Linked DNA regions of Homo sapiens: regions 1, 2, 4 and 5 are each reported to be linked to region 3. The links are microRNA targets in miRTarBase. Many come from high-throughput screens and were not tested one by one. Region 3 holds a microRNA gene; each other region holds the end of a gene's coding sequence.
Evidence for each region. Region 3 holds the annotated microRNA hsa-miR-4327 (GGCUUGCAUGGGGGACUGG, at 1,258-1,276, shown strand). A microRNA usually pairs through its seed, bases 2 to 8, with sites in the 3' UTR of a target mRNA and lowers its output. Matches are read on the target gene's strand: a 7mer-m8 pairs with bases 2 to 8, a 7mer-A1 pairs with bases 2 to 7 and ends in A, and an 8mer does both.

Region 1: the mRNA of ZC3H8 is a reported target of hsa-miR-4327. The part of its 3' UTR that is shown has no 7-base or 8-base seed match.
Region 2: the mRNA of DENND6B is a reported target of hsa-miR-4327. Seed matches in the 3' UTR shown: 7mer-m8 at 2,250-2,256.
Region 4: miRTarBase lists PPIL4 as a target of hsa-miR-4327. The part of its 3' UTR that is shown has no 7-base or 8-base seed match.
Region 5: miRTarBase lists ZNF280C as a target of hsa-miR-4327. Seed matches in the 3' UTR shown: 7mer-m8 at 2,351-2,357.

The regions. Positions count from the first base shown.
Region 1 is chr2:112,227,213-112,231,212 of GRCh38, forward strand. It overlaps ZC3H8 (zinc finger CCCH-type containing 8), which reads right to left. Exons shown (of 9, transcript NM_032494.3): 8 at 3,691-3,738. The coding sequence ends at 3,706. It also overlaps a transcript of FBLN7 not described here. Among named protein-coding and RNA genes, the nearest start is that of ZC3H8, 26 kb to the right of the region's middle.
Region 2 is chr22:50,308,630-50,313,085 of GRCh38, forward strand. It overlaps DENND6B (DENN domain containing 6B), which reads right to left. Exons shown (of 20, transcript NM_001001794.4): 17 at 4,370-4,456; 18 at 3,894-3,996; 19 at 3,714-3,788; 20 at 401-3,632. The coding sequence ends at 3,510. Among named protein-coding and RNA genes, the nearest start is that of PLXNB2, 3.2 kb to the left of the region's middle. RefSeq lists a silencer at 39-88.
Region 3 is chr21:30,372,170-30,376,625 of GRCh38, reverse strand. MIR4327 (microRNA 4327) reads left to right here and starts at 1,248; the gene lies at 1,248-1,332. It overlaps KRTAP13-2 (keratin associated protein 13-2), which reads left to right and starts at 4,355. Exons shown (of 1, transcript NM_181621.4): 1 at 4,355-4,456. The coding sequence starts at 4,413.
Region 4 is chr6:149,501,535-149,505,990 of GRCh38, forward strand. It overlaps PPIL4 (peptidylprolyl isomerase like 4), which reads right to left. Exons shown (of 13, transcript NM_139126.4): 13 at 2,961-4,170. The coding sequence ends at 3,919. Among named protein-coding and RNA genes, the nearest start is that of ZC3H12D, 19 kb to the left of the region's middle.
Region 5 is chrX:130,201,248-130,205,703 of GRCh38, forward strand. It overlaps ZNF280C (zinc finger protein 280C), which reads right to left. Exons shown (of 19, transcript NM_017666.5): 17 at 4,050-4,168; 18 at 3,870-3,906; 19 at 1,460-3,745. The coding sequence ends at 3,730. Among named protein-coding and RNA genes, the nearest start is that of RAB33A, 32 kb to the left of the region's middle.

The DNA.
Region 1 (4,000 bases), not on the chromosome of region 3:
AAGCATTAGAAAGGTTAGAAAGGAAGAGGCAGCTGGGCGCGGTGGCTCACGCCTGTAATCCCAGCACTTTGGGAGGCCGAGGCAGGCGGATCGCCTGAGGTCAGGAGTTTGAGACCAGCCTGGCCAACATGGTGAAACCCCATCTCTACTAAAAACACAAAAATTAGCCGGGCGTGGTGGCAGATGCCTGCAATCCCAGGTACTCGGGAGGCTGAGGCAGGAGAATCACCTGAACCCGCAAGGCCGCGGTTGCAGTGAACCGAGATCGCGCCATTTGCACTCCAGCCTGGGGGAGAAGAGCAAGACTTTGTCTCAAAAAACAAAGGAAGACATAACATAATCCTACATATACAAATTCCTAAGGAATACATGCACACACAAAATAAAACCTACTAGAGCTAATAAATGAATTCGAAGTCTTGGGAAACAAGATCAATAACAGAAATAAATTCTATTTCTACATACTACCAATGAACAACTAAAAATAAAGTTTAAATTACAATTCCATTCAATAGCATCAAACAGAATATGTACGAATAAATTAACAAAAAAGTGTACACTGTACACTTGTACAGTGAAAATTACAAAACTGAGAGAAACTGAAGATCTAAATAAATGGAGAGACATTCCATGCTCACAGATCAGAATTCTATGTGCAATTTTCCACAGATGCAATGCAATCCCTATCAAAATCTCAGCATGGGTTTTTTGCAGAATGTACAAGCTGATCTTAAAACTTATATGGAAAAGCAAAAGATCCAGAGTAGCCAAAACAATCTTTGAAAAGTAGAACAAAGCTAGACAGCTTACGCTTCCTTATTTCAAAACTTAGAACAAAGCTATAGTAATCAAGACACTGTGATAGTGTATAAGGACACACATATAGAGGTCAATGGAACACAACTAAGTACAGAAATAAATCCATACATTTATAGTCAGCTGATTTTTGACAAAGGCATGAAGGCAAGTCAGGGGGAAGGGGCAGTCTTTTTTTAAAATGGTGCTGGTGGCCAGGCACAGTGGCTCACCTTTGTAATCCCAGAATTTGGGAGGCCAAGGTGGGCAGATCACCTGAGGTCAGGAGTTCAAGACCAACCTGGCCAACATAGTGAAAGCCTGTCTCTACTAAAAATAACAAAAATTAGGAGGCATGGTGGTACACACCTACAGTTCCAGCTACTCGGGATGCTGAGGCATGAGAATCACTTGAACCTGGGAGGCAGAGGTTGCAGTGAGCCGAGACTGCACCACTGCACTCCAGTCTGGCAACAGAGTGAGACTCTGTCTCAAAAAAAAAAAAAAAAGTGCTGGGACAATTGGACATCTACATGTAAAAAAAAGTTTTGCCCTTAACTCACACAATTCCTAAAAATTAACTCAAAATGAATCATAGACATAAACACAAGAGCTAAAACTAGAAAATTTTTAGAAGAAAACATAAGAGCACATCTTGTGACTTTGTGTTAGGCAATAAATTCTTAGATACAACACGGAAAGCATGATCCATAGAAGAGAAAACTGATAAACTGTACGACATCAAAATGAAAACTTTGATGCTTCAAAAGATACCATTAATAAAATAAGACAAGCCACAGATTGGGATATTTGCAAATCATGTATCTAATAAAGGATCTGTATCCAACATACGTAAAGAACTCCTAAAACTCAATAAGAAAACAATCTAATTTTAAAATGGGCAGAGATCTAAACTGACTAATGGCCAATAAGCACATGAAAAGATGTTCATAGTCATTTGAGAAATGAAAATTACAACTACAGTGAGATACAGCATCACTCCTACTGGAAAAGCTATAATCAAAATGACTGACAGTAACAAGTGTTGCTACGGTAATTAAGATAGTATATACTGGAGAAAAAGACAAATGGAGAAGAACTGACATCCCAGAAACAGACCTTCAGATCTTCACTTGATGGAAACTTGACATATACCAAAAGGGGTATTACAGGTTAGTGGGGGAAAGAGCAGTCTTTTTAATTAAATAATGCTTGGGAGATTGGTTATCCATGTGGGAAAAAGGGAACAACAACAACAAAAATAAGAATGATATGAGGCCTCTATCTGATACCATTTTAAAAAAGTCTATTAGTATTATTTTTTCTTTTCTCCCTAGAGTTACAGTTATACTCTTTTTTCATTCATTCTACCAGTTCCTCCCACATGTAAAGTACAAAAGGTGGAGTACAGTTTCCTTCTCCTTGACTTTGGGCTTGGCCATATGACTTACTTTAGCCAATGGGTTATAAGTAAATGTGCTGTAAACAGGGCTTTGCCCTCTTGAGTTTCTGCCAACACCATGAGAAGAACATGCCCTAGCTAGCCCACTGGTCCCAGGAGAGTTAGATAAGTATGGGCAGAACTGACCCAGCAGATCTGCCATATGAAACAGTGCCAACCCAACCAAGGCCAGATGAGATCAGCCAACTCCCAGCCAATCTATATATGCATAAAAAATAAGCACTTTGTGTTATTCACTACTGAGAACCTTGTAGTTGTTTTTGCTAAGCACCATTACTGTACCAACTGTTAATACAATTCCCAATGGATTAAAATATAAACGTATACAGCAAAGCTCCAAAACTTAAAAAAAAAGTTAAATTACTTTACAGCCTCATGACAGGGAATAATTTCTTAAATGAGACACAAAACACAAAAGTAGGCATAAACAAAAAGATTCCCAAAATAAGTAATTCTACTCACTGAGATGCCGCAAAAAAAAAAAACAAAAAACGAAAAGACCGTCCACAAAATGGGAGAAGGCCTGCCACACATACCTCACAAAGAATTATATAAGGAATATATAGAAATCAATGTATAAAGGACAATCAGACCAATAAAAACATGGGCAAAGACATTAACAGGCATTTCACCAAAGATGAAACTCAAAAACCAGTAAGCATAAGAAAAGATGCTGCACTTCATGCAAATTAAGTTACGAGATTCTATTTTTACATCCACTAAATTGGTTGAAATTAAAGTATTGACAATATAAAGTACTGGCAAGTGTAGAATGACAGTTCTTCTACACAGTTTGTAGGAGTATAAACTGGTATAACTACTTGAGAAAAAAACTGATATTATATTAAATTTTATGATGATATGATTCTACTCCTTGGCACATACTGTGGATAACTTGTGCACATTCATGCCAAGAAGTATGTATATGGATATTTACAAGAGTTAGTATTTTTAAAAATTGAAAATAACCTAAATATTCATTAATAGTAGAATGACCAAATAACTAATATAAACATAAAGTGAAATGTTATATAGGAGTAAAAATGAATGACAGCTGCATGCATCTACACGAATGAATAATGTTGGGTGAAAATAGCCACGTCATCAATTAATACAGAGAGTATGATACAGTCTGATAAAATCCAAACATAAGCAAAACTAAATATATTGTTTTGTGAATTATACGTATTTGGTAAATCTACAAAGAAACACAAGAGGAGAATAAAAATATACCTGATAGACAAGCCCACACAAGGAAGCAGGCTGATGTAGATCCATATAGGTATGTAAATATATCAAATATTTTATAATTCTTTTTTAGTGGCGGAGGAAGAAGAAAAATACTTCTATTTGAGAACCCTATTGAGGTTGCATGCCAACTTCTGGAGATGTTCAGACAAGAAAAAAAGAAATGTGGTAAATTCTAATTTTACCTTTTTATGTCTATTTTATTTACATGACTTCTTTTCAGTATCCAAAACCTAATATAAAAAAAAAATCACATAATCATTTTTATGCATTCATGTGTAATTCAGGTATACTGTCATATTCATAACTTTCAAATGATTCCAATCAAATTCATCCTAATAATCATCTAATATTATTTACTACTACTACAGGAACTGAAAAACTTATTTCATATATATCACTTTTCCATATCTATTTCACACAAATAAACAACTAAATATTTGGTACAACTTCTAATTCCACATTAACCATTCATATTTTACAACCTAAAAATAT
Region 2 (4,456 bases), not on the chromosome of region 3:
GAACTGGATGTGCTGAGCAGGAGACAGAAGCATTCCCCAAGCTCTTGCCCCCACCCTGGGTCACCCCTCCCTGGGGCCCGCCTTCCACCCAGACCTGCCCCGTCCTTGCAGCTGGTCAGCTTCCTCCTGTCCCCAGCCAGGCATCCCCTCCTCCTCTGCTTCCCCCACCCGGGATCCGCCCCGCCACATCCTGACAAACTCCCCCAGCCTGACTTAGTTCTTTCAGTCTCTGCCTTCTCCCACCCTCAAGCAGCCAGGCCTTGTTCCTGTCCAAAATCTTCCCTTGGGCCTTGAACCACAATCCACATCACGGCAACCCTACCCTTCACTGCAGAGGACCCCAAAATTACCAGGTTCTGACAAGGTTGCCAACTTTTTATCAAAAAAGGAAAAGACAAGGTCCAGTCACAAAAGGACATTTTAATACCAAAACTGTGGGAAGGCCACTGTTCTAGACTAAAAGGGAGTCTTTAAATAGCCAGCAGGAAGCTTGAGGGTGAGCAGCTGTCCTTCCTGTCCCTGAGCAGGCCCCCTGTGTGCACCCTCAGCCCCGAGCCCCACTCCAGACCTGCTCCCAGCCCTTCCCACCCTCTAGGTTCTGTGGTCCCTGTCCTTCGGGAGGCCTGTGACCACAGCAGTCCTCACCCTCGCCAACTAAGTTCTGCCCAGCAAGCCCTCTTGCCTGCGGGGGCTGGCACTCTGGCCAGGGGTAGAGCTGTCTGGACCTTCCTGCCTCTTCACTGACTGCCCCTGGCCTGGAGTGCGTGGGGCGGGGAGGGCCATGGCCTAGCCCTGGACAGAGGCTCAGCCAACTCAGAGCGGCCCTGACACTGGGGGGGCCACAAGAGGCATCCGGACAGATGGAGCTGGCAGGTCTCCACGCCCAGCCCCCACCCATCCACCCCAGGCCACATTCCACCCCAGGCCTCTTCTGCACAGGTGGGGACAGGCCCTGAGGAAGAGGGGCTGGGACACTACCCCCCACCTTAGCCTTAGCTTCTGCCCAGGGCAATGCTGGCCACCCAGCCCGGTTCCCCCCTCAAGTTCCCCCTTCACACGCCACTATGTGGCCTCACCAGAGCCCTCCAGGGAAATCTGCTTGTGCATTTCTGGATACACAGTGGCCAGGGTCCCTGGGGGCTCCTCAGAGACCAGCCTGAAGCCCCTCCCCTGCAGCCATGTGGGTCTGCAGCCCTCTGTGCTGTGCGGCAGCCCTCAGAAAGCCAAGTGAGGCGAGACTGTGCTGTGGGGAAGCACATGCTGCCACGGTCCTTGGGGTGCGCTCCCCAAAGTGGGGTCACAGTTGTGAGAGAGGTGGGTTGTCTTCCCAAGCTGCCCCGACACCTTGAAGTGGTGGTCCTCAGGGGGCTGGTCACCAGCATAAGGCTTTTGCAGAGGGCCCTGGTGGAGGGCAGCTGATGGCAGGGCCTGTACTGGCCCCCCAGGCCCCATCTTATGGAGGTCAGCATTCAAGCTGCCCACACAAGAGGTGCCAGCATCTCTGCAGACCCTCTAGAGACCAAGCCCTCAGTGGGGAGGCTGGTCCCCCTGTGCTACAGTCAGGAGGCCCAAGCTGCATTTGGGGCCAGGACCTTTCTCACCCTCGGGTCCCCGGCTTGTCCCTGCCACAGAACAGGTTTGCCACCTCGGCCTCTATGTGTTCTGTTTCATGTGGTCACATCCTTGGACCCTGCACCAGACATCTGGGGCTTAACAGCTCCCCTTGGTCACCCTCCCGGCTGCCTCCGCGTCTTGTCTGTAGAATGGGAACAGGGACAGGCTGTCCTGGGCTGCAGTTGGGCTGGACAAGTTGACATGTACCAAGTTCTGAGAACTACCTGGCGCCCGGACACCTGACCCCGCTGTCCTTGTGGCTCAGTCACATCCTGCACTGAAGTGGCTGGCAGTGCTCGCTCTCCACCACCTGGCTGGAGGTCTGAGAGCACCAATGAGAACACAAACAGTACGTTGCGCTGAATGAAGGCTACATTCCTCGGACTGAATGGGGGCCTCAGAAGAAAAAGAAAAGTCCCGGCCGGGCGCGGTGGCTCATGCCTGTAATCCTAGCACGTTGGGAGGCCGAGGCGGGCGGATTACGAGGTCAGGAGATCGAGACCATCCTGGCTAACATGGTGAAACCCTGTCTCTACTACAAATACAAAAAATTAACCAAGCGCAGTGGTGGGTGCCTGTAGTCCCAGCTACTCGGGAGGCTGAGGCAGGAGAATGGCGTGAACCCGGGAGGCAGAGCTTGCAGTGAGCCGAGATCATGCCACTGCACTCCAGCCTGGGCAACAGAGCGAGACTCCATTTCAAAAAGAAAAAAAAAGAAAAAGTCCCTCCCCCAGCCCTGTGTCCCCTGGCCAGCACCCGCCCGGCCTCACAGGGTACAAAGCCCAGTCTCCATGAGTGGCCCTCCCAGCACCCTGTCGGGCATCTGCATGGCTGGCTCGCTCAGATGAGGAGTCTGAGGGTCTGAGTGGTCAGGGGACCTGCTCCCGGGCACACAGTGCGTGATGCTGAGCAGGGCTTGGCTGTCCGGAGCCCTGACAGTACCGTCACTGTGTGCTGTGCAGGGTCAACACCGTACCTCACCGGCCTCAGTGCCTGCAGGTGTCACGGGGGGAGCATACAACCCAGAGGTGGCTCTTAGGGACGTTCACCCCTTACCAAGGAAAGGGAGACATGCAGGCTCCAGCCAGAGGCAGGGTCAGGCCGAAGTCCAGAGCCCCTTGGGCTGCATGTGGGGGATGGACGGACACACTTGGACAACAGGAGCCCTGTCCACCTCCCAGAAGGGACGCACGGAGCTGGTGCCTGGTGGGGGCTCCAGGACTGGGAGCCAGGAAGGTGCTGTGGCTCTCCGAGAGCCAGGCTGAGCCAGCTCTCCTAGCAGAGGTGCTGGGCTGCACACAGCCCCCTGCCCAACCCCTACCTCCCAACAAACCACAGCCCCAAGCAGGTGGGTGTCCAGAGGAGCACCAGGGGTGGTGAGCAGAGCTCTTCACACTGCAAAGTGGTCTCTCCCTTTCTCAAGTTGATGACTATATGCAAAATAGCCTCCCATCCCCAGACAAGACGGGGGCTGTGTCAGGAGAGGGTCCCTCCTGTCCTGGGCAGCCTGTTGGGCTGAGGGAAGCATCACACACAGCGCAGGGGGGTCGGGGGCCAACAGATGGGCACCGGGAGGGGCAGACGGTAGACGCACCCACATCAGCAAGGGCTCCCAGCCTGTCCCCGCCCCCGTCCCAGCCTAAGGTCTGCAGAGGCCAGGTGGGACCCAGGAGGAGGCAAGGCTCTGCCTGCGAGGAACCCCTATGGTCAAGGCCATGCTGTGGTTCCAAATGTCGCCTTTACTGCTGAGACAATGGTGGTGCAGGAAGGGGAGCCTGCAGTCTGGGCGGGGGGCCAAGGAAGGGGAGCGTGTGCTTGGCCCAGTGCCGCCACCACTGGGGAGTGGGAGGCTCAGGCAGACCTAGGGCCCTGGGACCGTGGCCCTTGGCTTTGTTCTAGGGAGGGCACAAGACAGCCTGCAGGTCTTTGGGCAGGGAGCCGATGACCGTCTCGATGTACAGCTGTGCCCGCTGCAGCGTAGCCTCCTTCACAGGGAGCTGGTGGCCCTGAGCCCGCACCTGGAGGGGCAGCCATGGTCAGGGCAGGCGCAGCTCCGTGCCAGGCTGGTGGCGCTGGGACAAGGCTGGGAGGCATCTTACCAGCTTCTCACGAAGTTTCAGGACCAGGTCCACGACCTCCACCTCGGACTTGTCTTTCATCCAGGTCTCGATGTTCTGCAGGGCAAGACGGGGTCTACTGTCAGCAAGGCCCCTCACTGCCCTGGGCCTGTGCCCACCCCCACCATGTTCTGGCCCTCCCCAACCCCCAGCCTCTCTCACCGCCTCACAGATAGCCTCCAGGTGCAGGGCCTCCAGCTTCAGGGCCATCTCCTTGTGCCGCTGCCGGTACCAGCCATCAAAATGGGGGGACTTGAAAAACCGCCTGTGGGGATTAACAGGCGGGGGGCCATGGGGCTGACCCTGGGGATTGACAGGCGGGGGCCATGGGGCTGACCCTGGGGATTGACAGGCGGGGGGCCATGGGGCTGACCCTGGGGATTGACAGGCGGGGGGCCATGGGGCTGACCCTGGGGATTGACAGGCGGGGGGCCATGGGGCTGACCCTGGGGATTGACAGGCGGGGGGCCATGGGGCTGACCCTGGGGATTGACAGGCGGGGGGCCATGGGGCTGACCCTGGGGATTGACAGGCGGGGGGCCATGGGGATGACCCTGGGGATTGACAGGCGGGGGGCCATGGGGCTGACCCTGTGGACCAAGGAGGGCTCAAGCTGCCTGCACCTGCAGTCCACGCACCTGTAGAGACCCAGCCAGTCGCCCTTGAGGATGCAGGTGAGCTGGGGCCCAGCATGCTCCAGGCTACGCAGGAAGTCATCCTGGCTG
Region 3 (4,456 bases):
GCACAAATATATAAATATCAACTTGGATATGTTTTAGATATTTTTATTTAAATAAATTTAATATAAAAAGAAAGCTACAGATACATATATGTATCCAATAAGATGGCATTTTTGTAACTTAAAACAACAATAAATGGTATAAACCGATAAATATATGTATAGACAATTTCCTGGAATGCTATGCAAAAACGAATGCATTATTGTGATGCCTTTGGAAAGATATGAAAAAGAATCAGACTGAGAGACTGGCCCACAAGGGGTCTCTCTCTGTAAGATAGCGAATAGAATGGTGGTTACCATAGGCTTGCAAGGGTAGTGGAAAGAAAGGACAGAGAGGTGTTGGTTAATGGGTGCAAAAATATAGTTAGATAGGAGGAATAAGATCTAGTGTTCAGTAACACAGTACAGCAACTGTGGTTAACAATAATGTATTGCATATTTCAAAATAACTAGAAAAGTAGATTTGGAATGTTCTCAACACAAAAAAAATGATAAATGTTTAAGGTGATGGATATGCCAGTTACCCAGATTTGATCATTACACATCGTGTGCCTGTATCAAAATATCACATGTACCCCATTAATATGCGCAACATTATGTATCCATAAACATTTAAAATAAAAAAGAGAAAGATGAACGCAAATCTGACAACGTGGTAACAATTGTGAGTTTAGGCATCCAGAAAATGACTCTAGAATTTACTTTAATTTTCTATTTGTTTTCAGTAAATGCAAGGGTAAGGTCTCAGAAGAGATAAGAAGAACCGAGAGGTGTGTAAGCAGGCTGTTTATAAATCTTTTTGTTTGTTTGTTTGTTTGAGACGGAATCTCACTCTGTCGCCCAGGCTGGAGTGCAGTGGCATGACCTTGGCTCACTGCAACCTCTGCCTTCCAGTTTCAAGCGATTCTCCTGCCTCAGCCTCTCCAGTAGCTGGGATTACAGATGTCTGCCACCACGCCTGGCTAATTTTTGTATTTTTAGTAGAGACGGGATTTCGCCATGTTTGAAAGGCTGGTCTCAAACTCCTGACCTCGTGATCCACCTGCCTCGGCCTCCCAAAGTGCTGGGATTACAGGCGTGAGCCACTGCGCCCAGCCTGGCCTTTTTATTTCAAACGAAAGTCATGGATGATGAAGACATAAAATGGATGAATTTGAAGCAGGAAGAGCTGTAGTGAAGTTAGAGGAGGTGCCAGGGCCTGGAAAAGTCTCAAACAATGAGGCCGGATGACCTCCGAGAAAGCCACAGGCCTGGGTAGGCTTGCATGGGGGACTGGGAAGAGACCATGAACAGGTTAGTCCAGGGAGTTCTCATCAAGCCTTTACTCAGTAGTGGGTTCTTCATAGTTAGCATTAATGTTTAATAGATACATTTCCCCTTGGGTGAGAATTTTAAAAATAAAATCTAGTGTAAAGCAGCTGTTATGAAGACTCTTTAGTGACCAGACAATAAAAGCCTCTCCTAGGTCTAGAGAAGGCAGAAAATTAAAAAGTGAACAGAAAGTAAAAAGGTGGCCGGACGCGGTGGCTCACGCCTGTAATCCCAGCACTTTGGGAGGCCGAGGCGGGTGGATCATGAGGTCAGGAGATCAAGACCATCCTGGCTAACATGGGGAAACCCCGTCTCTACTAAAAATACAAAAAATTAGCCAGGCGTGGTGGCGGGCACCTGTAGTCCCAGCTACTCGGGAGGCTGAGGCAAGAGAATGGTGTGAACCCGGGAGGCAGAGCTTGCAGTGAGCCAAGATTGCACCACTGTACTCCAGCCTGGGTGACAGAGCCAGACTCCGTCTCGGAAAAAAAAAAAAAAAAAAGAAAGTAAAAAAGGTATAGGGCAGTATATATGGATTTTTACTATTTCTACTACTGCCTAATATTTGGTTAATTTGAAAGCTTTTGAAGAATCTCTGGAAACATTGCAATAGAAGATTGTCAGTTTAAAGCTTCTGCTACATTACTATGTTAACTTGGAAAAACAATCACTTTTCAAGTAATTCAGATCATAGGCTACTTGTGGCTACTGTGTACTGTAATGATAGTTTTATTCTCTGTAGTGTTGTTATGCCTAAATTTCTAAAGAGAAAAGAGAAAGAAGAAAGAAAGAAAGAGAAAAGAAAGAAAGAAATAGAAAGAAAGAGAAACAGAGAAAGAGAGAGAGGGAGAAAGGGAGGGAAGGAGGCAGAGAGAGAGGGAGGGAGGGAAAGAAAAGAAAGAAAAAGAAAAGGAAAGAGAGGCAGAGAAAGAAAAGAAAGAAAAAGAAAAAGAAAGAGGGAGGGAGGGAAGGAAGGAAGGAGAGAGAGAGAAAAGATTTCAATATCACGTTTTCCCTGACATATCAAGATAGTGAATTTTTCTTTCTATACTAATACTTTGCCTGTGTATGTAGAGTACGTAGAGTATTTTATTAGTTCCAGAATCCACTTTTGAACTGTTAAGGCTACTCTAGTTTTGTTCTGCTTTTTCTGCCTTTCAGATGGACACATTTATTAGCATTTGGGAGTTGTTCATTAGCATTTGTACAAAGTGCACAAATAACTCCTAATAAAAAGTGTTAACCCAATTAGGAATGGGTGGAGGGACTGTTAATTGGAACTGACTTACTCCCAAGTTATTTTAGTGTTTATTCCCAGACATAGGGAGCTGGTCTAGAAAGGCAAGAACTTTTGGATATTAGTAAGTTTTTTGTTTTCTTTTTTTTGAGCAGAATCAACCTGTAGTAAGAAAAGAAAAATATTTCTCATTTTAAAGGTGTTAAAAGCTGCCATTATAAGGAATCCCATGTGTTGGGGGTGGTGCATACTTTTTGGTGAATTTAATAGGTGTCCATTCATAAAGCACAGCTTATTTTACTTCAGTGAATCAGAGTGATGGTTTAAGTATTGCACAAGGGCACTTCATGTGATGCATGCCACACTTTGGATTCTGCATGGGAGAGATAATCATAAAACAAAGTAACTAAGTGCTCTGAAACAGTGTGCTTTGGAATGAAGGAAGTTAATTTTCAGGTAGTTAAGAGGCTCTCTTTTCGATAACCATTGTGAATGCCATTTCCCTTAGTTAAACCAAATAAAATGTCAAATTCAAAAGAAGAAGAATAGACACAGATAAGAAGCCTCTTCCCCCCATTAATCTAAACATGGATTACCAATATTCTTTCTCTTTCTTGGGCTAGGAAGTGAAATATACTTCAAATGTATGAAGATCAGTAAGGCATAGAATTCCCCAGTTGAACACTATTCAGTGTGAATATTGTTAGGAAAAGTAAATAAGGCTTTGTTAGGCTTTTATATCTTAGTATAAATAAGCTTAATAGTTTCTTTTCTGAGACAAGTTAAAGTTGAATTTACTTTTATATTTGCAAGGTATTTGCAACTTGACTCTGAATAAGAAAACCATAATTAAAGCTTCAATTTTGCTTCTATCTTACTGAGAAATTAGGGGAAAGTTAAAGCTCTCTGAGAGGTAATTTTTCCATGTATGGGTTGAACAGGGGATGTTTAAAGACCCATATAACTCTAATACTTCAAGTTAAAAGCTTCAGAAAAATGTTAACAATTCCTCAAAGTTTAAGTATAAATTAATAATTGCAGCTAAGAATCTGTCCTTTTATCCAGAAAAAAAAATTGAAACATAAAACAAAATAAAATTTATGAGTTGATTTAGAGCATAACCATAGAATAGTGCTTGCTACAAGATAGGTTCATCAGAAAATATCTGAAAAACTTCAATTTAAAGTCTTACTAAAAAGTTTGTGTTTATTGTTTCCTAAGTGAGCATTGTCTAAAGTAGCCTCTTGTTAAGGAAGATGCCTGATATGGACACCCAACATAATGCTGCACTCCTCAGTTCTGATCCTGAGCTCTTAAGGTACTAGTAAAAGGTTTAACTGACAGATTGCTGAGGCTACTGAATACAGTTAGTATTTGGAGAAATCCTCCGTTTCTGGTAACAAATAATATGCTTGTGTTAAAAAGAAGGACAATCTATTTTGAGTAGTAACCACTGATGCTCCTGATAACTTAAGGGAAGTAAAGAAAGAATTTTGTGTAATTCCATTTGGTACAATAAGGACTCACTGTACTCAAATAATAAGAGGCAAGATACTCATAAATGTGATGACATATAACATTGAAGGTCAAACCACAGTGAATTCCAGGAAAAAAAAAAACTGAGTGGCTTCCTTCTAAGTGTTCCAGAGTGACTAAAGTACAAGTAAGTATATGAAGATGTGATAAATTAAACAATAACCTAGGGAAGCATTCTTATAATAAAAAGTGAGCAAGGAGAAGGGAGTGTCGAGACAGTGGACACACCCAGGTCTAAGAGCATATATAACTTGGAGTCCAGACTATGACATTCAAACTCAGAGAATCTTTCCACTATAACTCAGCTGAACTCACATCTCCCGTCAACATGTCCTACAACTGCTGCTCTGGAAACTTCTCCTCCCGCTCCTG
Region 4 (4,456 bases), not on the chromosome of region 3:
AAGTCACATTATATCCAAAAGAATGACATTTGGAATGACAAAAGATTTCTCCCCAGTAGTAACAAAAGTAAAAAGATAGTAGACTAATTCTTCAAAGTACTGGGGGAAAAAAAGACACACCTCAACTTAGAATTATGTACATATAAAATCAACTTTATAGAATGAATTGAAAATACTTTTGATAAATGTAAACTAAGAGTTTGCCATCAACAGATGTCACTAGAGGAACATCAAAAGATGTGCTTCAGAAAGAAGGAAAATTATCCTAGGTGAAAGGTCTGAGATGTGAGAATAATAATGAATAAACAAACACTTCTAACATATAAAGTAAATCTAAACCAACAATTATCTGTACAAAAACAGTAATAATCACAAGGTCTAATTTTTTTTCTAACAGATGGTGTCTCACTATGTTGCCCAGGCTGGAGTACAGAGGCTAGTCACAGGCACAATCGCAGTGCACTGCAGCCTCTAACTCCTGGCCTCAAGGGATCCTCCGGCCTCAGCCATTCAGGAGCCAGAACTACAGGTGTGCACCACTGAGTCCAGCTCAAGGTCTAATTTTAAGGTGAAAAATCACAAGCTATAACTAAAATACTGAATGATTTTAACACGAAAGTTGCAAGAGGGGTGACTTGGAGAGTTCCAAGACTCTCAATTAGAGAGGAAGATAAAGATATAACATTATACTTTTTAAGTACGGATGTAATATTCCAAGGAAATTCCCCCAAAACAAAGAAGAGGGGGCAGAGGGGTGAGGGTGGAATTAAAAAACATTTTTGATTCCAAAAGAAAAAAAAAGAGTGGAAGAAAAAAACATAAAAAGCACAAAATAAGGTGGTAAGGAATAAATGCAAATACATCAGTACACATAAAAATGCACTCAACTAACCAGTTAAAGTTCAGATTAGATTTAAAAATAATTGGCCGGGTGCAGTGGCTCATACCTGTAACCCCAGCACTTTGGGAGGCTGAGGTGGGCAGATCAGAAGGTCAGGAGTTCCAGACCAGCCTGGCCAATATGGTGAAAACCCTGTTACTAAAAAAAAGAAAAAAAAATTAGCCAGGCCTGGTGGCAAGCACCTGTAGTCCCAGCTACTCAGGAGGCTGAGGCAGTAGAATCGCTTGAACCCAGGAGGTGGAGGTTGCAGTAAGCTGAGATTGCGCCACTGCACTCCAGCCTGGGTGACAGAGTGAGACTCCGTCTCAAAATAGTAATAATAATCATCATCATCATCATCTAGCTATATGCTGTTTATGAGACACACTAAAACATAAGGACATTCATCAACAAAGCAGGATAGAAAAATCTAGCTAAACTATGCGCAATGCTATCAAAAAATAAAAACGTCAATGAAAACAAATTCCCAGAAAAATGTAATAAAAATGACTAACATTAAAGAAATAGAAAGGCTAATAATTCTATAATTTTTGAAACCTAATCAATAGTTAAGAAATTTTCTCACAAAAAAATGCAAAGTTCAGACAATTTTATAGGCAAGCTCTATCCAGCTTTTAAGGAACAGATTAATTTAAATGTTTTTCTTTTCTTCCAAGAGAACAGACAGAGGGAAGGAGAGAGAGACAGCACTCCTTAACTTATTCTTAGTATCCACAATCTATTAAGTATAAAAAGACAACAATCTACTACTATATAAATGGGCAAAAGACATGAAACAAGCTTTTCAGAGAGCAATAAGGAATGAATAATAAACATGGGAAAAGATGCTCAGCCTCATTAACATTTAGGAAATACAAAGTTAACTTCCACTCTAGTCAAAATGGAGTAGCAGAGGCACGATTTACCTTCTCCACCTTAAATTAAAACCTATATAAAATGTATACAAGGAAGTTTTTCAGATGTTAGACAAAAGCCAGTGCAGGACAGTGACTCCTGAGAGATGGAAAACAAAGAAAGCCCTATAATTGCGCAAGCTTCTACATGGGGTTTCTAAGCTGTGGCACTAAGGCTAGGGAAGGGAACCTCCCTGGGTAGAGAATTTAGGGGAGCCAAGGTAAGATTTGCAGGGCAGAATATTGGGTTTCCCTTAAGTCTTCAGCTAAACACCAAGCAGTGTATGCATGTGAGGTAAGGAACAGGAGATACAACTGGGAGCTCAATAGGGTTCAGAATATTTCATGTTCCCAACAGACAGAATGCAGAAACCGTGTAACCAGGAAGATTATTCAGAACGGTATTACCTTCGTAGTGGGTCAAATTAGCCCTAAACTAAAGGCTGTCCCAGTCCTGTCTTATTAAGCTTAAAAGCAAGCTATAAAATGATCGGATTGTTTCCAAGTAACTTTATGTCCCCAAACAGAGTTCAAGATACTTAAAAGAACTCCAGCACCCAATATTAAAAACAGAAATTACCAGGCATGTAATGAAGGAAGTTACAATCCAATATGGGCAGGGTGGGGGTTGGGGTAGGGTGGGAATCAATCAATAGAAACAGACCAGAAATGATGCAGATGACAGAATGGGCAAGCACACTGAAAGAGCTATTATCAATACACTCCAGATGTTGAAAAAAAAAAAAATAGAGGAAGGCATGAGCATGTGAAGGAGACACATGGGAGATAAAGACCCAGACAGAAATTCTAAAGACTAAAAATATGTCGGAGGTGAAAAATACCTGGATACGATTAAAAGGAAATTAGATACTTTAGACAGAAAGATTAATAAACAATGAGGACACAGCACTGGAAAGTACCCAACATGAAACACAGAGAGAAAAAGGCTTTTTAAAAAGCTGCACAGAATCAGCACACTGGGAGAAAATTCTGAGGGGCCTAACGTACATCCAAGTCATCAGAGCCCCAGGAGAAGCATGAGAGGAGCAGAGAGAAAACCATAACAGAAGAAAAAATGCCCCCCAATTTCCAAATTCTATGAAAACCATAAACCCACAGGTAAAATAGCTGCAGCAGCAGAAACGTGAAAAAAAAACTACAGCAAGCACATCATAATCAAACTTCTTACAACCAGTGACAGAAAACCTTAAAAGCAGCCAGGAAAAAAATGACATCTTACACATGGAAGAGCAGAGATAACAGTAATCTTGCTGGAAATCACAGGTAGATACCACTTAACATCCACTAGGTTGGCAAATTTTTAAGTCTGAACTTAAGTGTTGGAGATGCTATGAAACAAAGGTAACTCACAGTGCCAAGAGAGGTATAAACTAGTACAGTCACTTCAGAACACAAATTTGGCATTATTTTATCAATATATCAAGCAATATAACTGCTAGATACAATGTTCACAGCAGCATTGTTTCAACAGCAAAAACAAATAAACAAAACTCAAATGTCCATCAAGAATGAATAAGTTGTAGTATATTTATATAATACTATATAGCAATAAAAATGAAAGAAAGTCACAGAAGTAAACATTTTGCCATTTATATAAAATTCAGAAACATACAAAATTAACATTTCACTTACAGATACATACGTATGTTGTAAAACTATAATAGACAAATGACAAACACAAAATTCCAAATAATTATTTGAGAGGGAGAGGGCCTTAGGGAACTTCTAAAATGTCGACAACATCTGTATCTTAAGCTGGCTGATGAGTACACAGATATTTACATTTATTATCCCTTTATATATACGTTTATGTATTTTTGTAGTATGAAATACTTCATTAAAAAAAGAGTGAAAATGTAAGACTTCAAAAATGAAGACTACCATTTATGTATAACAATAAAATTAGTGTAAAAAAGTATACAAAGAAAATGTTCAATTCTTTATCTTTCCGTGCTCTATATAATCAGTATTAATCTAAAGACCATAATCCTAGTATGAAAAAAATAACAAGCTTTGACACAAAATCTAAGCATCTGCTTTCCTGGCACTCTTAAGTTAGACAAGAGTAAATATGTTAGCCTCTCAATTCTGCCTCTTCATCTTTCATCTATACTTAGATTTTTCTTTATCTTTGGACTTCTTTGGACTTCTGCTTCGGTCTCTCTTTTTACTCCTTTCTCTTTCATAAAGATCTGTTTGGTATTTTGATTTATGACTATTACTATAATGGCCATCCCTCTCTCGAGATCGGCTACGACTTCGGTTCTGAGTTCGGTCTCTCTTTTCACTCTTTTGTTTCTCCCAACAGCTTTCTTCTTCTTCATAGTGACCAAACCCCATTTCTCTATAGATATCCTGTCAAAGGAAGGGGGAATTACAAGTGAATCAGTAAAATAATCATTTTGTGGGCATTTTCAATTAATAAAACTTAGAAAAGTCTACCATTAGAAGGCTGTTATAACAGCTTAAATGTGAACACTACCACTAATGTCAAGAATCTTGTAAATTACAAAGCAATAAAATAATTCAGAAAAAGGTTTAACAACGTCATTGATTTGTATCTACTATTTTGGCTGAAACGAAGGATCAGCTTCAAAAATATGGAACTGAAATAGCTCAACTGAAATCAGAACATGTCTCT
Region 5 (4,456 bases), not on the chromosome of region 3:
GACTGAAAGAGGTGTTTTGCCAAAATGTGACACAAAGAAGGGCAAGAATCTAAGTCTTTGTCATTTAGTGTTTTTTTAAAAAATAATAATAGTGATGGACTGAAACTGAGCCAACCATACCTTTTATTCAGTTGAAAACAAAAAAGGACACATGCATGACATGGCTATTTCTGAATCAGGTGAAATAACTAACAGTCTGAAGGTGAAGAGGGATCAGATTGTCAAGCTAAAACTCACTAACACCTATTAAAACTCAACTGCTTATAACAAGTAAGCTTAGTACTGACTGCATAAATAGTTTTATTTAAACAAAGTTTAAAAAAAGTGATGCTATGGGACACATAACTTCCAGAGCATTAAACTTTAAAATAACTTGATACATAGTATAAGAAACAGAATCCTATGGAAGAACACAAAACTGTACCTCTACCTAAAATACTGCTATAGCAAGAATGTGGTTTTCTGTATTTTTGAACTGTGATAGAGACAGAGAAAATATCTGTAAATAAAAAGAAGACCAATGCTAAAAATGCAAATAAGTTGTTATTTCTGGGAAAAAGTTTAAAACTTAAAGTTGGGTGTCATTAATGCTGCTGAATGAAAATGATTTTAAATGGCAAATTTCATACATTTTACCATAATAAAAAAAGTAAAAAAAAAATGGGTAGAAAAATGGTGTTTGACAAAACATCCTAGAGAAAGGTATGGAAAGAAAAGGATTACCAAGTCCACGACTATGACATAAGCCCCTTTTGGAGATTTGGGAAAATCATTTAGAGCAGAAATCTGTTTGGAAAATTAAAATTAATGGATTCAACTCCTGACTATGAATTGCAAGGAGTATACTACATAGCAGTGGCCAATGACACTGGCTTTCAGTGTTTCAAAGTATATCAAAGCAGTTTTAATTTTCTTTTTTTTTTTAAAGCAGGGTCTTGCTTTGTGGCTTAGGCTGGAATGCAGTGGCATGATCATAGTTCACTGCAGCCTCGAACTTCTGGGCTCAAGCGATCCTCCTGCCTCAGCCTCCTGAGTAGCTAGGACTACAGGCATATGCCACCACACCCAGCTTTTTTTTTTTTTTTTTTTTGTGGTAGGGACAGAGTGTTGCTATGTTGCCCAGGCTGGTCTTAAACTCCTGGCTCCCACCTCAGCCTCTCAAAGTATTGGGGATTACTGGCATGAGACATTGTACCTGGTCCAGTTCTAATTTTGGAGTTAAAAAACACCCATATTGAGTCAAATGACTTCAGAGCCTGCCCACCTTCATGACTATTAAGATCACAAAGGGGGCTTTTGCTAGCTGCTCAAGAAATTAGTAAAGTGTAAATAGTTTGCTTTTAACTGTGCTGGAGGAAAAAGTACAAGATGTGCTCAGCAGATAAAGCTTTCAGTCTGCAGGTCAAGCAATCAGGCTCCACGGAACTAGGAGCAAAGCAATGCTCCTATAGTTATATGATAGCTTTTATATGAAGTTATTTATTAGAAATTTCCAAGGCACTTTAACAATACAAATTTTATTAAAAAAATAACATCAAAACTGTTCAGCAAATCTGTATTCAATGTAACCAAAATAAACAAACAAGAAATTAAAAAAAATATACATCTATATATATATGAGCAAGAAACAAGTGCATTTTTTGGTCCCAATATTTTTTGAATATATTATCTTTATCCAGAGGAATTACATTAATGGCTAAGAAGGTATTATGTATTAGATGTATAGAAATGTAACTTTAAAACTTGTTTTAAGTTCTGTAAGAAGAGTTTTGCCAATTCTTTATGTCTTTGAAATCAGAATCCCTAAGCTAATGTTAATGATAGGCCCAAGACAGAGCATGTAATAATGTCTAATGGTCTGGACAAGTATGAAATTAAGAAGCTACCAATAAGTAGCTACACGAAATCTGTAGACAATTCTAAGAAATGTCTTGGAGTTTGTAATAAGAACAAAACAAACACAAAGAGAAGAGTTCAAAAGTAGACATAAAATGGACATCAGCAAATTTCATGAATCTGGGACAAAGAAGTGATGGAAAAATAAAATAGAGTAAAATAAATTTAAGAACAATATAAAACCTAGCTACCAAAATAAAATTAAAAAAAAAGTTTAAAAATGTGAGTATCGGTCGGGTGCAGTGGCTCACACCTGTAATCCCAGCACTTTGGGAGGACGAGGCGGACTGATCACGACGTCAGGAGATCGAGACCATCCTGGCTAACATGGTGAAACCCTGTCTCTACTAAAAATACAAAAAATTAAAAATTAGCCGGGCGTGGTGGCAGGCGCCTGTCATCCCAGGTACTTGGGAGACTGAGGCAGGAGAATGGCGTGAACCCAGGAGGCGGAGCTTGCAGTGAGCCAAGATCGCGCCACTGCACTCCAGCCTGGGTGACAGAGCAAGACTCTGTCTTAAAAAAAGAAAAAAAATAAAGTGAATATCAGTATTGCTGAAAATTCCTAGAATATTGGATAAAACTTTAAATGAAAACATGAATAACTGACTTTGGGAACTGTAATTGTAGAAATTTTGTTTTTCCAAAAACAAGAAAGTAACCTTGGTTCCCAATACAACCAGAATTTTGATATTCCTTGGACTGCATGCCTGCTAGAGGAAGATTAAAGAACAGCAGCCAAAATGGCTAAACGTCAGCCTGGATGTTGAAGCACTGATCTAAAAACAATATAAAACCAAGCTACCAAAATAAAACAAAATAAAATGTAAAAAATGTTTAAAAATGAGAATATTAGTATTGCTGAAAATTCCTAGAATACTGGATAAAACTTTAAATAACATGAACAACTGTGTCTTTGGGAACTGTAATTGTAGAAATTTTCTTTATCCAAGAACAAGAAAGTAACCTTGGTTCCCATACAATCAGAATTTTGATATTCCTTGGACTGCATGCCTGCTAGAGGAAAATTAAAGAGCAGCAGCCAAAATGGTTAAACGTCAACCTGGATGTTGAAGCACTGATCTCATGGACTTTTCTTGGTTAGAATCGACCCATAAGCTTAAGATCAAAAGCCAAAGCTCCCAATGGGAAGTTGTGCTCTATTTGGTGGGCCTTGAGGTCATCTCTGGCCAAATCAGCATCAGCCTTATGGGAGGTCAGTCAGGTAGGAAGGGACTCTCCCCAAGATCTGATTTCTGAAGGCCACAAACTAGAGGACGTCTCACAGTCAAATAATTCACATTTCTTGGAAAGAAAGAACAGGTATCAGTTGTGTCCATCAAAAGGGGACACTGTCCAGGAGTACCCTGGATATTTTTTGAAACTTATGTGTTGCTTCTTCATTTGAAAAATATGAAAAATAGAACAGTAATGAACAAGGAATGAAGAAAAAATGGTTATCTGACCTAAACATGTAAGACTTATAAGAAATTAAGAAAGCAGACAAAACAGACAGAAAAAGATGAACAGTCATATTATCTGGAATGTAATATTCTGAAGGCAAGTCAAGTATAGCAGAGAAAAACAAAAGGCATTTTTGGAGAGAGCCAACTGGAGAAAAAAATATGTTAAGATATGTTAACCTGACGCAAAGATAAGGTGGAATAACAATGTAGTGGCATCTGAAAGCTGAAAAGAGCTGAATAATGAGAGCTAGTGTCATAAACTTGGCTGTTTAACTGCCCTTTGTGTGAGAAAATACTTCAGAACTTTGAACTTAGGAACTTCCAACTTGTCTTGCACCAGGTTGCATGAACTCCATGGAGCAGGAATCTATTTCAATGAGCAGCTTTAAGAAAAAAAAAAAAAAACTTTAATATTTTTCATTTATATTAATATTAATGATTCATTAAAAAATACAACAGTGCTAAAGTCCATCAAAGCAAAATGCACTGAAGGAAAATTAAACTTACCCAGTAGTGGGTTCAGAAGTTGAGGTACTTTTGGAAACTGAAATCAAAAGAGTTTTACATTTACAATAGCATATATGAAGAGTGAGACTATCAATTTAATACATGGGTCCATATGGTGTCCGATCAAAAGTACTGAAATAAATATCAGAAAATCAAAGAAACACAATTATATATACGTACCATTCTCTATTATAACTTGGCAAGTATGAGTTTTACGTTGACTTAAGTGTTTAGCCATACGATCTAAGCCGGAAGAATCAGCTAGGAAATCACATTTAAGGCACACTAGAGTAATGCCCCTATGAAAAAAAAGAAGACAGTAAGAAATATTCTTATCATTTATGAAAATCCATATGAGCTCAATAATTACTTTTCCATGTACTAACTTGATTTGCATTTTAGTCTCCACAACCGTCATTTTCCAATTTTGTTATATAAACTTGATATATTTAAAATAGTTCTCTAGAAAATGGCATCGCTGGCCAGGCACGGTGGCTCATGCCTGTAATCCCAGCACTTTGGGAGGCAGAGGTGGATGGATCACCTGGGGTCAGGAGTTCGAGACCAGCCTGACCAATATGGTGAAA